Homo sapiens: one gene and its partners. The protein of the gene in region 1 purifies or fractionates together with the protein of each later gene. This does not show direct contact. Each region holds a gene or a part of one and is shown in the gene's direction. Other genes may lie near its edges.

The links.
Region 2: the proteins of UQCC1 (region 1) and MIA3 purify together in Homo sapiens (affinity purification with mass spectrometry; one large-scale study listed by BioGRID and IntAct). This does not show direct contact.
Region 3: the proteins of UQCC1 (region 1) and CLSTN3 purify together in Homo sapiens (affinity purification with mass spectrometry; one large-scale study listed by BioGRID and IntAct). This does not show direct contact.
Region 4: the proteins of UQCC1 (region 1) and MAN2B2 purify together in Homo sapiens (affinity purification with mass spectrometry; one large-scale study listed by BioGRID and IntAct). This does not show direct contact.

What each region holds. Positions count from the first base shown.
Region 1 is NC_000020.11:35,345,974-35,349,473, reverse strand, and holds part of UQCC1 (ubiquinol-cytochrome c reductase complex assembly factor 1), read left to right. Parts: intron 1-2,201; coding exon 2,202-2,310; intron 2,311-3,500. UniProt on the Homo sapiens protein: Required for the assembly of the ubiquinol-cytochrome c reductase complex (mitochondrial respiratory chain complex III or cytochrome b-c1 complex). Involved in cytochrome b translation and/or stability.
Region 2 is NC_000001.11:222,628,097-222,631,596, forward strand, and holds part of MIA3 (transport and Golgi organization protein 1 homolog isoform 1 precursor), read left to right. Parts: coding exon 1-2,293; intron 2,294-3,500.
Region 3 is NC_000012.12:7,156,908-7,159,445, forward strand, and holds the end of CLSTN3 (calsyntenin-3 precursor), read left to right. Parts: intron 1-581; coding exon 582-784; intron 785-1,033; coding exon 1,034-1,174; 3' UTR 1,175-2,038; downstream 2,039-2,538. UniProt on the Homo sapiens protein: Postsynaptic adhesion molecule that binds to presynaptic neurexins to mediate both excitatory and inhibitory synapse formation.
Region 4 is NC_000004.12:6,609,689-6,613,188, forward strand, and holds part of MAN2B2 (epididymis-specific alpha-mannosidase isoform 1 precursor), read left to right. Parts: intron 1-109; coding exon 110-362; intron 363-1,191; coding exon 1,192-1,302; intron 1,303-1,397; coding exon 1,398-1,590; intron 1,591-3,500.

The sequences.
Region 1 (3,500 bases):
ATTAATTTGGAGGGCAGCATTGTTATCCTCTTGATTCCTACTGAGCACATAATATCAACTTAAGCCTATAAGTCTTTTCACACATAGGTAGGCATGACTTATCTGTGCTGTACTTTTACAGTTGTTCTTTTAGACTCAAATGCAGGATCCTGAATTTATCCCCATTAGGTTGATCTTGTTAGATTCAACCTGTTGAAGTATTTTTGGTTCATGGTTGGATCATCTGGCACATTTGTTCTCCTGCCCAGCTTCTTGTCACCTGCAAATTTGGTAAATATGTTTTCTTTTCTCCATCTTAGTTATTAACAAAGATGTTGAGACAGGCCAAGCTGTAATCATTTCATTGTACCATTACTATTGCTGGTAGATTTTAATTGGCAAGATCAATTGTGTATGGATATAGAATTGTCAGGTTGGATTAACTATTCCATAATTATAACAGGAATTGTCTTTTAGGTGAGTAATCCTATTGTAGCTGCTTAATAAGCTATTTAATGAGAAACAATAAAAATTATAGTCTGCCAGGCATGGTGCCTCACACCTGTAATCCCCACACTTCGGGAGGCTAAAGTGGGAGGAAGTCTTGAGCCCAGGAGTTTGAGATCTGCTTGCACAGCAAATTGAGACCCCCGTCTCTACAAAAAAATAAAAAATTAGCTGGGCGTGGTGGTGCACACCTGTAATCTCAGCTACACAGGAGGCTGAGGCAGGAGGCTCCCTTAAGCCCGGGAGGTTGAGGCTACAGTGAGCTGTGTTTGTGCCACTGCATTCCGGCCTGGGTGACAGAATGAGACCCTGTCTCAAAAAGGAGAAAACAAGCACTTTGGGAGGCTGAGGCGGGTGGATCACAGGTCAGGAGATTGAGACCATCCTGGCTAACACAGTGAAACCCCATATCTATTAAAAATACAAAAACATTAGCTGGGTGTGGTGGCAGGCGCCTGTAGTCCCAGCTGCTTGGGAGGCTGAAGCAGGAGAATGGCAAGAACCCGGGAGGCAGAGCTTGTAGTGAGCCGAGATGGCGCCACTGCACTCCAGCCTGGGTGACAGAGCGAGACTCCGTCTCAAAAAACAAAACAAAACAAAACAAAACAAAACAAAAAAGAATGAACTATGGTCATGCATGAAATGAGGAACTAGTTTGAAAAGTTGGGGACCCTGCTTATATTCCTATATATAATAAAATATAATTCTTGTATGTTTAGATTATGTGAGGTCTTGATTATTCAGAAAGCCCTCTGGACTGACTAGAGGCAAATGTGGTATAGGGGAAAAGGTCCTAAACTTGGCCCTAACCATAGGTGTTTGTTCATTTATTTATTCAGCAAGTGTATATTGAGTGCCTACTGTACTTAAGCCCTGGAAATAAAATGTTGACAAAAACCAGATTTGATCTTTATCTTCAGTAGAGCTTACCTTCTAGTGGGGGAAACAATTGGATAATTACACAAATGTAATCATAATACTTTCTGTGATCTGTGTTCTGGACAGGTGTTGTCCAACAGAAATATAACGCAAGCCATGTATGTAATTTAAAATTTTCTAGTATCTACATTTGAAAAAGTAAAAAGAAACAAATTTTAATAGATTGTATGTAACCCAGTATATCTGAAATATTATTTCAACATGAAAGCAGTATTAAAAATTGAGATATTTTATATTCTTTTTCTTCAACTAAATCTTTGAAATCTTAAACTTGTGCCACATCTCAGCTTTGACTAGCTGTATTTAAAATGCTCAATAGCCACAGGGGAGCCACTGTATTGGACAGCACAGTTCTATACCCAGTTTTACGGATATAAAACTGGTGTTGGGCAAATTACTTTCCGTCTTTAGGACTCCTGCTTTCATCAGTAAAATGAAGGATTCAGACTTGTTTGTCTTCTAACAAAAAAATGTGGTTCCCTCCAGGTATGAGGGAGCCTTCAGAGGTGCCCTAAATAATCTGTATCTCGATCTGGGTGGTGCTTGTGTGGGTGTATGTATAATACATAAAAATTTATCAGGCAGTACACTTAAGATTTATACACTTAATAGTATCTTTGTTATATCTCAGTAAAAGTTTAAAAAAAAAAAGTTCACTTCCAGTTTGATTTGGTGCCCTTTGCTAAACTCACTCTTAGATGAGGAGACCTTCAGTGGAAATGTGTGATGTGAAAAATGCAAACAGCCAAGACTTTTTTTGTCTTCTTCCCACCCAGGATGTGTCTAGTCCGAATGAAGCAGGAAGGCCGGAGTGGGAAGTACATGTGTCGTATCATAGTTCATTTTATGTGGGAGGATGTTCAGCAGCGCGGCAGAGTCATGGGGGTAAGTGAGTGCTGTCAGATGCTTGTCCTGGACAATTCCAGAGAAGGGTTTGAGTTTGGAGTTTTATCTGTTGTAAAATGGCCCTGCTTTTAGATTTCTGTGAAATGCTGCCTAATATCAAGTGGCAGTTCCGCTAAAGTCACTTTTTCTGCCTCTGTGGAAACTAATACTCCACAGATACTTTATGTGTTTGTACACATTATAGTGATTTGTCAGTGTGAAGTCATCCTGTATGGAGATGGGATTGTAAAGCCCAAATCGTGGTGATAGGAGGGATGGATTTGGTGAATGGAGGGAATCAAATGATAATCCAGTTAAGGATACTATACCTTTGACACCAGTTCAATATTTGAACCAGTCCTTCTATAAATTAGTTCTGATGGGAGGCCCTGGTATGGGGCCTGCACTGTCTTCAGGAACTGAAACTCAAGCTCCTTGATCACTGGCAACCTAGAAGAGTCTGGTAAGATACCTCCTGAAAATGTACATTAGTACATTTAATAATTAACCTGAGAAAGGGGAATATATTATATATATATATATGTCACATGGGATGTAATGACAATAGAAAAATGAAACCAAAACACTAGAATATAGCTGGTTATACAGATCATAGTGTGTCCGGAGTTGGTTCCTTGTGGTGGGTTCTTGGTCTCGCGACTTCAAGAATGAAGCCGCAGACCTTCGCTGTGAGTGTTACAGCTCTTAAAGATGGTGTGTCCGGAGTTTCTTCCTTCCAGTGGGTTCGTGGTCTCGCTGACTTCAAGAATGAAGCCGCAGACCTTCACAGCAAGTGTTACCAGCTCTTAAAGGTGGTGCGGACCCAAAGAGTGAGCAGCAGCAAGATTTATGGTGAAGACCGAAAGAACAAAGCTTCCACAGTGTGGAAGGGGGACCTGAGCGGGTTGCCACTGCTGGCTAGGGTGGCCAGCTTTTATTCCCTTATTTGTCCCTGCCCATGTCTGCTGATTGGTCCATTTTACAGAGTGCTGATTGGTGCGTTTTTACAGAGTGCTGATTGGTGCATTTACAATCCTGTAGCTAGACACAGAGCGCTGATTGGTGCGTTTTTACAGAATGCTGATTGGTGCATTTACAATCCTCTAGCTAGACACAGAGCACTGATTGGTGCAAGTATCCACCCGACCCAGAAGCCCAGCTGGCTTCACCTCCCACTAGTATCTTCTTTT
Region 2 (3,500 bases), on another chromosome or scaffold:
ACCAGACTCGTTACTTCATTAGAAGATGATTTTGATGAGGAATTGGATACTGAGTATTATGCAGTTGGAAAGGAAGATGAGGAGAACCAAGAAGACTTTGATGAGTTGCCATTACTTACCTTTACAGATGGGGAAGATATGAAAACTCCAGCAAAGTCTGGCGTTGAGAAATATCCAACAGATAAAGAGCAGAATTCAAATGAAGAGGACAAGGTTCAGCTAACTGTGCCCCCTGGCATCAAAAATGATGATAAAAATATACTAACAACCTGGGGGGACACTATCTTCTCTATTGTCACAGGAGGTGAAGAAACAAGAGATACGATGGATTTAGAGAGCTCTAGTTCAGAGGAAGAAAAAGAAGATGATGATGATGCATTAGTCCCAGATAGCAAACAGGGGAAACCACAGTCAGCAACAGATTATAGTGACCCTGACAATGTAGATGATGGTCTTTTTATTGTAGACATTCCTAAAACAAATAATGACAAAGAAGTAAACGCAGAACATCACATTAAAGGAAAAGGGAGGGGAGTTCAGGAATCCAAGAGGGGCCTGGTACAAGATAAGACAGAATTAGAGGATGAAAATCAAGAAGGCATGACTGTGCACAGTTCTGTTCACAGCAATAACCTCAACTCTATGCCAGCTGCTGAAAAGGGTAAAGACACATTAAAATCAGCTTATGATGATACAGAAAATGACCTAAAAGGAGCAGCTATTCATATCTCAAAAGGAATGCTCCACGAAGAAAAGCCTGGAGAGCAGATTTTGGAAGGTGGCTCAGAGAGTGAATCTGCACAGAAAGCTGCAGGGAATCAAATGAATGACAGAAAGATTCAACAGGAATCCCTGGGTAGTGCACCACTCATGGGAGATGACCACCCTAACGCATCCAGAGACAGTGTGGAGGGAGACGCTTTGGTAAATGGGGCCAAACTGCACACGCTTTCAGTGGAGCATCAACGTGAGGAATTGAAAGAGGAATTAGTTCTTAAAACTCAAAACCAACCTAGATTCTCCTCTCCAGATGAGATTGATTTGCCCAGAGAACTGGAAGACGAGGTTCCCATTCTGGGAAGAAATCTTCCCTGGCAACAAGAAAGAGATGTGGCTGCCACAGCCAGTAAGCAAATGAGTGAGAAGATAAGGCTCTCTGAGGGAGAAGCCAAAGAGGACTCCTTGGATGAAGAGTTTTTTCATCACAAGGCAATGCAGGGCACAGAGGTAGGACAGACAGACCAAACTGACAGCACAGGAGGACCAGCTTTCCTTTCTAAAGTAGAAGAGGATGATTATCCCTCTGAAGAACTACTAGAGGATGAAAACGCTATAAATGCAAAACGGTCTAAAGAAAAAAACCCTGGGAATCAGGGCAGGCAGTTTGATGTTAATCTGCAAGTCCCTGACAGAGCAGTTTTAGGGACCATTCATCCAGATCCAGAAATTGAAGAAAGCAAGCAAGAAACTAGTATGATTTTGGATAGCGAAAAAACAAGTGAGACTGCTGCCAAAGGGGTCAACACAGGAGGCAGGGAACCAAATACAATGGTGGAAAAAGAACGCCCTCTGGCAGATAAGAAAGCACAGAGACCATTTGAACGAAGTGACTTTTCTGACAGCATAAAAATTCAGACTCCAGAATTAGGTGAAGTGTTTCAGAATAAAGATTCTGATTATCTGAAGAACGACAACCCTGAGGAACATCTGAAGACCTCAGGGCTTGCAGGGGAGCCTGAGGGAGAACTCTCAAAAGAGGACCATGAGAACACAGAGAAGTACATGGGCACAGAAAGCCAGGGGTCTGCTGCTGCAGAACCTGAAGATGACTCGTTCCACTGGACTCCACATACAAGTGTAGAGCCAGGGCATAGTGACAAGAGGGAGGACTTACTTATCATAAGCAGCTTCTTTAAAGAACAACAGTCTTTGCAGCGGTTCCAGAAGTACTTTAATGTCCATGAGCTGGAAGCCTTGCTACAAGAAATGTCATCAAAACTGAAGTCAGCGCAGCAGGAGAGCCTGCCCTATAATATGGAAAAAGTCCTAGATAAGGTCTTCCGTGCTTCTGAGTCACAAATTCTGAGCATAGCAGAAAAAATGCTTGATACTCGTGTGGCTGAAAATAGAGATCTGGGAATGAACGAAAATAACATATTTGAAGAGGCTGCAGTGCTTGATGACATTCAAGACCTCATCTATTTTGTCAGGTACAAGCACTCCACAGCAGAGGAGACAGCCACACTGGTGATGGCACCACCTCTAGAGGAAGGCTTGGGTGGAGCAATGGAAGGTGAGATGCCTATGGCCTTGTAGAACAGGGCTGGAGAAGCAGGTGGGTGGGTCGCTGAGGTGCCTCCTATCTTGTGAAGCTCTGTTCAGTTTCCAATGTGCCTAAAGGAGAGGGACAACACAGGGAGGTCCACATGTTCCTTCCTGCCATCTTTCTTTTAGGCTGGAGCATGGAGAAGAATTTCTTGCCGTTTCCCTTAGAATAGTTGAGACTGGTTAGCATTTTCAAAAGGAAACTTTGTAAAAAGCTAAAGAGAAAGATATAAACCAGAAAGTAATATACAAAATACAAATGTCATGTAAAATTATGAAAGGGTTTTATTGAACACAATTTTTCAGTCGTCAGATAACTGCTCTGTAACCATGGATTGACTGGTATAACTTTTAGATCAATGCCTTGGCTAAATTCCTACGTTCTCCCCAATTTTATCTTTTGTGGATGGCTTGTTCTTCCTGTTTCTTGGGAGCACTTACTCCAGTTAAACCCTCCTGGGCCGTAAGGTTCTTGCATGCAGATTAATCAAGATTGGGACAGGGATGCCTTCGAATGCAGTGCTTGATGCGTGGAAGCCATTCAGTTGAATTAACCCCGAGCCAATATCCTGACATAAGCATTCTGATTCCTAGTTCCTTGTTCTATTCTCTGCATCCAGGCTTTTCTCTTTCTTTTCTTTTCTTTTCTTTCCCTTTGCCCACCTGCCCTTCCTTCCTTCCTTCCTCTTTCTTTTTTTCTTTTCTTTTTTTTTTTCTTAAGACAGGCTCTCACCCTGTCACCCAGGCTGGAGTACAGTGGCATGATCATAACTCATTGCAGCCTCCAACTCCTAGGCCCAAGCGAACCTCCCATCTCAGCCTCCTAAGTGGCTAGGACTACAGGCATGCATCACTGTGCCCAAATAATTTTTATTTATTGTAGAGACAGGGTCTTGGTATGTTGCCCAGGTTGATCTTGAACTCTTGGCCTCAAGTGACCCTCCTACTTTGGCCTCCCAAAGTACTGGGATTACAGGTGTGAGCTACCGCACCTGGTATATCCAGGCTTTTCAGACAGATGTATCTGAATTGAGAGTACCAAGGGGACAGGAAGCCACAGGAAAACGTATTACTCCAGAGTGCTAATTTTTCCTAAGAAATGGGGGAGGAGAACTTTTTTGCATTTAATTAAAACATATATTTTGGATAAGAAGGCAATATTCAGATGAATTTTC
Region 3 (2,538 bases), on another chromosome or scaffold:
TCACGGAGTGAGCTCAGTCCAGGTGGGTAAGGGAAGGGGCTGCTCTGTGCCCCTTGGACTTGTCCCCAGCCTCAGGTGCTAGTGCCCTCTTCCTGCAGCCAGCCCAGGCCTGGAGCCTGCATCTCCTCCTGCTCAGCCAAGCCCGTGTGGGGGCCCCTCCTCTCCCTCACTGGGCACTGGCACCTCTTTCCTAGGCTGAGTGGTCTCTGGGGAAGGCACAGGTGGAATGACAGGGGCAGATTCCAGTCCTTGCCCTCTGTCCTCTGCGAATAGGGCTGTTCATGACAGTGTTGGGCAGGGAGTCTTTTTCCTCCTCTGCCCTTGCCTCTCTGTACACCTGCCTCCCTCTGTGTTTGTTCCTTTGCCTTGCAGCAGCTCCCTTCCTCCCCTTTCGTCTCCTGCCCTTCCTGGTGGGCTGTTTCTCTTCTGGCTTCTCCAGGTGTTCCTCTCTTCTCGGCCACCGTGTGTTCTGCCCTGGGAGTCCTTCAGCCCGGGCTGCCTCTTTTCCTACCCAGCCCCCTGTCCAAGTGCCCCCAGGTGTGCCTAGTCACGCTCTGCTCACCCCCGCGCTCTCTCTGCAGTGATACCCAGCGCCGCAACCCTCATCATTGTGGTGTGCGTGGGCTTCCTGGTGCTCATGGTCGTCCTGGGCCTGGTGCGCATCCATTCCCTTCACCGCCGCGTCTCAGGGGCCGGCGGGCCTCCAGGGGCCTCCAGTGACCCCAAGGACCCAGACCTCTTCTGGGATGACTCAGCTCTCACCATCATTGTGAACCCCATGGAGGTGAGAGGCCTGGGGAAGCGGGGTTCTGTAGGGTCAAGACTGTGGAGCACACACGGTGAGGACTCCTGAGGAGGGGCAGGCCTGGGTGGAGGCTGTTCGCAGAGCTGCAGTGAGCCGGAGGGAGAGAGGTTCAGGCAGGGAAGGGGGTACACAGGGGTTAAGGGGACCGAGGGAAGTGTGGTCCCTGAAAGAGAGGCTGGGATGTGTGCAGGCCATTGATCCCTTCTCCTCTCTGTTCCTGCCCTCCAGTCCTACCAGAATCGGCAGTCCTGTGTGACGGGGGCTGTTGGGGGCCAGCAGGAGGATGAGGACAGCAGTGACTCGGAGGTGGCCGATTCCCCCAGCAGCGACGAGAGACGCATCATCGAGACCCCCCCACACCGCTACTAAGGCCTACACCTCTCCCCACGCAGAGGGGGAATTCTGCCCTGGTGAAACAGACACTCCAGACATGGGAGAAGGACTTTCTGGGAACACAGAGACCAAGAGGGAGAGAGGCTTCAGAACCAGTCCTCCTTTCATTTCAAAACCCCAGCGGGCCCTCTGGAGTCCGCCCTGCCCCTCCCCCGGCCCCCCATCCCTCACTTCTGGGCTGTCATGCTCCTGGTGTGCCCCTTGCACTGGGGCTGGCTGGGTTGGAAAGTGGGCTGGACTTCAGCTGCCTTTCTACCCCCAATGGCAGCTGCCCCCTTAGCACTCACTGTGTTGGGGAGAGGGTGACGATTGCAATGGCTGGGGCTGGGGCTGGGGGTGGGATTGAAGGAAACCCTCTCCTCTCCCCTTCCCTTCTCTCTCCTGTCCATGGGAAGCTTTTCCCCCTCTGCAGGGCTCCCTCAGCTGGACCATCGTCCCTGCTTCTCTTATGATCGCCCCACCTCATTTCCATTTCAGTCTGGGGACCCCATTTCTCCCTCCTTTCCAACTTCCTTCCTTTCTTGTCCTGTTTCCCTTCCTGCCCTTGCAGTCCTGAGGTCCTGCAGCCCCGGCCCCTCCTCCGTGACCTGGTGTGGCCAGGCTGCGGGGACGGGAGGGGACGTGGGGGCCCCGGGTGTACATATATAATGTATATTTTTTCAATGTTGTCGTGAGTGCAGCCCATGTTCCTGCGTGCAGCTCACGGCCTTGTGTGTATGTGTGTGTGTGTGTGTGTGTGAGGCATCGTCATGTCCTGGGGCAGGGGCGGGGGGTTGGGTGTGGTGAGGGAGGGGACATATCCTAGGGTTTTCAAATAAAACAATCAGAAAAAAAAAAAAAGCTCTGTGAGGCGCCTCCTGACTGCCTGGTCCTGTGTGGGTGTGGTGGAGGCTCTGGGGCCTCAGGGGCTGTTTGGGTCTCTGCACAGAGCTGAAGTGAGGTGGGCAGGGCTGGTGATCTTGGGGGCCTGACCAGGTAAGTCCCCAGGATGCCAGATCACCTGGAAAGTAAGCTGGGGGCAGATGGTTCCCACGCCTCCCTTCCTTCAGCACCCCCTGGAAAAGTACAGAAGATTCAGGGAATGCTATGGACACCTGGGCAGATGCCCAGTGCCTTGCAGGGGTGCTGCCAACCCCGCCCCACAACTTGGAACATTTTGCCTGTGCACATGGGCTCCCTGCTGGGCGGCCCCAGGGAGAAGGCAGGCAACCCTGCTGTTTGTACCAAAGGGATCTGGAGACTGTTCCCAGGCTGACCCTTTCCTGCTAGCCAAGGCTCAGACCCAGGGGATGTCTGCCTGCCTTGCCCATGTCCTTGTGGCTGCCTCACATGGCTGCTTA
Region 4 (3,500 bases), on another chromosome or scaffold:
TCGGCGTACCCTGCCCTGCCCACCCTGCCCACATGAAGGAAGGGAAGCAAAAAGGAAGCATCTAGAAGGTTCCTGGAGCTTCACTTACTGATGCTCCCTTCTCCTCCAGGAACATGACAGCACAGAATTACACGTATGCAATCCGCTCCCGGCTCACCCATGTGCCGCAGGGCCATGACGGGGAGCTGCTCTGCCACCGGATAGAGCAGGAGTACCAAGCCGGCCCCCTGGAGCTGAACCGTGAGGCTGTCCTGAGGACCAGCACCAACCTAAACAGCCAGCAGGTCATCTACTCAGACAACAACGGCTACCAGATGCAGCGGAGGCCCTACGTTTCCTATGTGAACAACAGCATCGCCCGGGTATGTCCTGCAATGCCCACAAGGCACGCTCCCAATGGCGCCTTTCCTGGACCCATTAAGCATCAAATTGCAGCAGTAGAGGCCAGTAGAGGCCTCCAGTGAGAATGTTTTTTTCCTTTTTTTTAAGATGGAGTCTCACTCTGTCACCCAGGCTGGGGCGCAATGGAGCGATCTTGGCTCACTGCAACCTCTGCCTCCCAGGTTCAAGCGATTCTCCTGCCTCAGCCTCCCGAGTAGCTGGGATTACAGCCGCCTGCCACCATGCCCAGCTAATTTTTATATTTTTAGTAGAGATGGGGTTTCACAATGATGGCCAGGCTGGTCTTGAACGCCTGACCTCAGATGATCCACCCGCCTCAGCCTCCCAAAGTGCTGGGATTACAGGTGTGAGCCACCGCGCCCGGCCTCCAGAGAGAATTCTTTTAAAGCCTGTGTATCTGCCCGTTCAGGGCTTGAGCGTGCAGGCTGTGAGTCAGACTGGTGTCTGAATTCTGGTGCTACCACAGACAAGAATAGTATGTGCCTTGGCTTGTGCCTCGGTTTCCTCTCCTGTAAAATGGCTCCTTCATCAAAGGGTCATTCTGAGGATCCATGAGATGATGCGTGGCCAGGGCTTGGCCAGGGCCTGCACCCATGTCAGCTGAGCTGTATGCTAGGAAGCCACAGAGCTGGTGTCTGAACCCCAGTCTGTTGGTCTCCAAAGTCAGGGTCCCAGCCCCATGCTGCTGCTGTGCCTATGGGGAGCACCAGCTGGGGTGGCCAGAGGGTGATGCCTGACCTACCTTGCCCTTTGCCCCAATCGCCCACCTGGCGATGTTTCTGTCTGCAGAATTACTACCCCATGGTTCAGTCGGCCTTCATGGAGGATGGCAAAAGCAGGCTTGTGTTGCTGTCGGAGCGGGCACATGGCATCTCCAGCCAAGGGAATGGGCAGGTGGAGGTAGGAGGCACGGTCTGTCCTACAGCAGCCCCTCGCGGCCCCCTACAGGCATGCCCAGGTGCAAGCCGGGCCTCTCGGACAATGCCTTCCCGCAGGTCATGCTCCACCGGCGGCTGTGGAACAACTTCGACTGGGACCTGGGCTACAACCTCACGCTGAACGACACCTCAGTCGTCCACCCAGTGCTCTGGCTTCTGCTGGGATCCTGGTCCCTCACCACTGCCCTGCGCCAGAGGAGCGCACTGGCGCTGCAGCACAGGCCCGTGGTGCTGTTCGGAGACCTCGCTGGTAAAGGGGCACCCTTTCAGAGTAACATCATCACTGCCTCAGCACCAGCCAGGCCAGGGCGGGCCTTGGGAGGGGCCTGTGCCCTCATGACTCTGGGCAGCTTTTGGGCAGGAAGCGACCTCAGGGACCTCTAGCCCAAGCCCCTCATTTAACAGATGGGCAAACTGAGGGCAAACAGTGGCTCACTTAAGGTCATACAACTAGGAGGTACAGAGCTGGGACTCACCCATTTCACCATATGCCTCTTCCCTGTATCTTCTCCATTTTCTTCTCTGATGTATCTTTTCCTTTCTTAATATGACATTATGTCACCATGTCACTTTAGGTCTGGAGGCTTAGCATTTAAAAGACTGGTTTGTTAGCTGGGCATGGTGGCGCATGCCTGTAATCCTGTAATGCCAGCTACACGGGAGACTGAGGCAGGAGAATCGCTTGAACCCGGGAGGCAGAGGTTGCAGGGAGCTGAGATTGCACCGTTGCACCCCAGCCTGGGTGGCAAAGCGAGACTCTGTCTCAAAAGTAAAAATAAAAGACAAGTTGGGTCTGAATCTAGGTGTGCTGTCACCAGGTGGGGGTCTTTCTAATCTATAGTCTAACCTAAAGGACTTATTCTGTACCTCCACTGAGCTTCTGTAGATCAGATCAACAACCATGTAGTTCTGTGTCTCTATAAAGTAGCAGAACATGAGAAACATTAAACAATGATTACATTTAAAGATGGTCTTTTGGAGCTGCAAGACCTAGATACAATTTGCTGCCATTCTCACTAATCCTTAAACTCTTTTCTTTTTCTACTCACCTATGGAGGTTTTGATTAGCATGTGCTTTTAAGGTTCTCCCTGCTTTGGTTTTAGAGCCAGAACCCAGGGCAGTAGCCAGCAGGCAGGCTGTCACTCACCCATGCAACAAGCATATACTGAGCACTTGCAGTGTGCCTGTGCCATACACTGGAGATGCAGAAGAGCAGCCCGGACCCAGGAGAGTTTTCCTGGGCTGTTGGACAGGGGAGGCATGCTCGTATAGAGCCAGGATTCAGGGTGGAGAAGGAGCCATGCCATAGAGGGCCTGGTGTTTCGTGGGTGTAGAGGAGTGTGAGACCACAGCTGGGAGGAGGTCAGGGATCAGGTCCAGGGGGTGTCAATTAAGGTTCTTTGGAAGTAACAGAGCCTGAAGGGGCAGCTATTTGGGCAGAGCCTGGAGAAGCTCATGGAATCTAAGGAGGAGCTGGATACAAGGTCCAGACAGGCATGGGGCAGGGCAGCTCTAGGCATATCAGGAGCAGAGGCTCACAGCCATGTCTCCCAGGACGGCCATTGAGCCACCTCTGGTTCCCTTGCTTCAGATTCCCAGAAGAGGAAATCTGATTGGCCTAGCAGGGTCAGGTTCTGCTCCCAGACCAGTCAGTGGTTCCTTCTGTGTAGCTGGGGCTTTTCCTGCAAAGGGAGATGAGGCCATGTCTGAGAAAGCCCCATGGCTGTTGTCAGCTCCATCCCACCTGGCCTCACTCTGGTCTCTGTTGGTTGCAAGTAACGGAAACCCAACTTGAACTAGCTGAGCCCCCAGGGAGAGTGTATGGTGAGGCCCACATAACCAAGGGAAGGGCAGGGTGTAATTGGGCCTCAGGGCCTGGAGCCCTCGTGAGGCTGTCCTTGTTCGTCTCTCACCTGCACTTCTCTCTGTCTGCAGACTTTCCTTCACCTCCCACCTGGGATGTGACTCTGAACAGCTCTGGGGCTGCTCTCAAAGAGCAGCTCTGTCTTCCCCACTCAAAAGGACCTAAGACTTGGACTTTCCAGTTCCAAGTGCAAAAGTCCTAGGGAAAGATTCTGATTGGTCCTACTGGGGTCAGGTGGCCCATGCCTGGACCAATCAGCATGGCCTGGGGTATTGTAAGAAGATGGTAGCTCCAG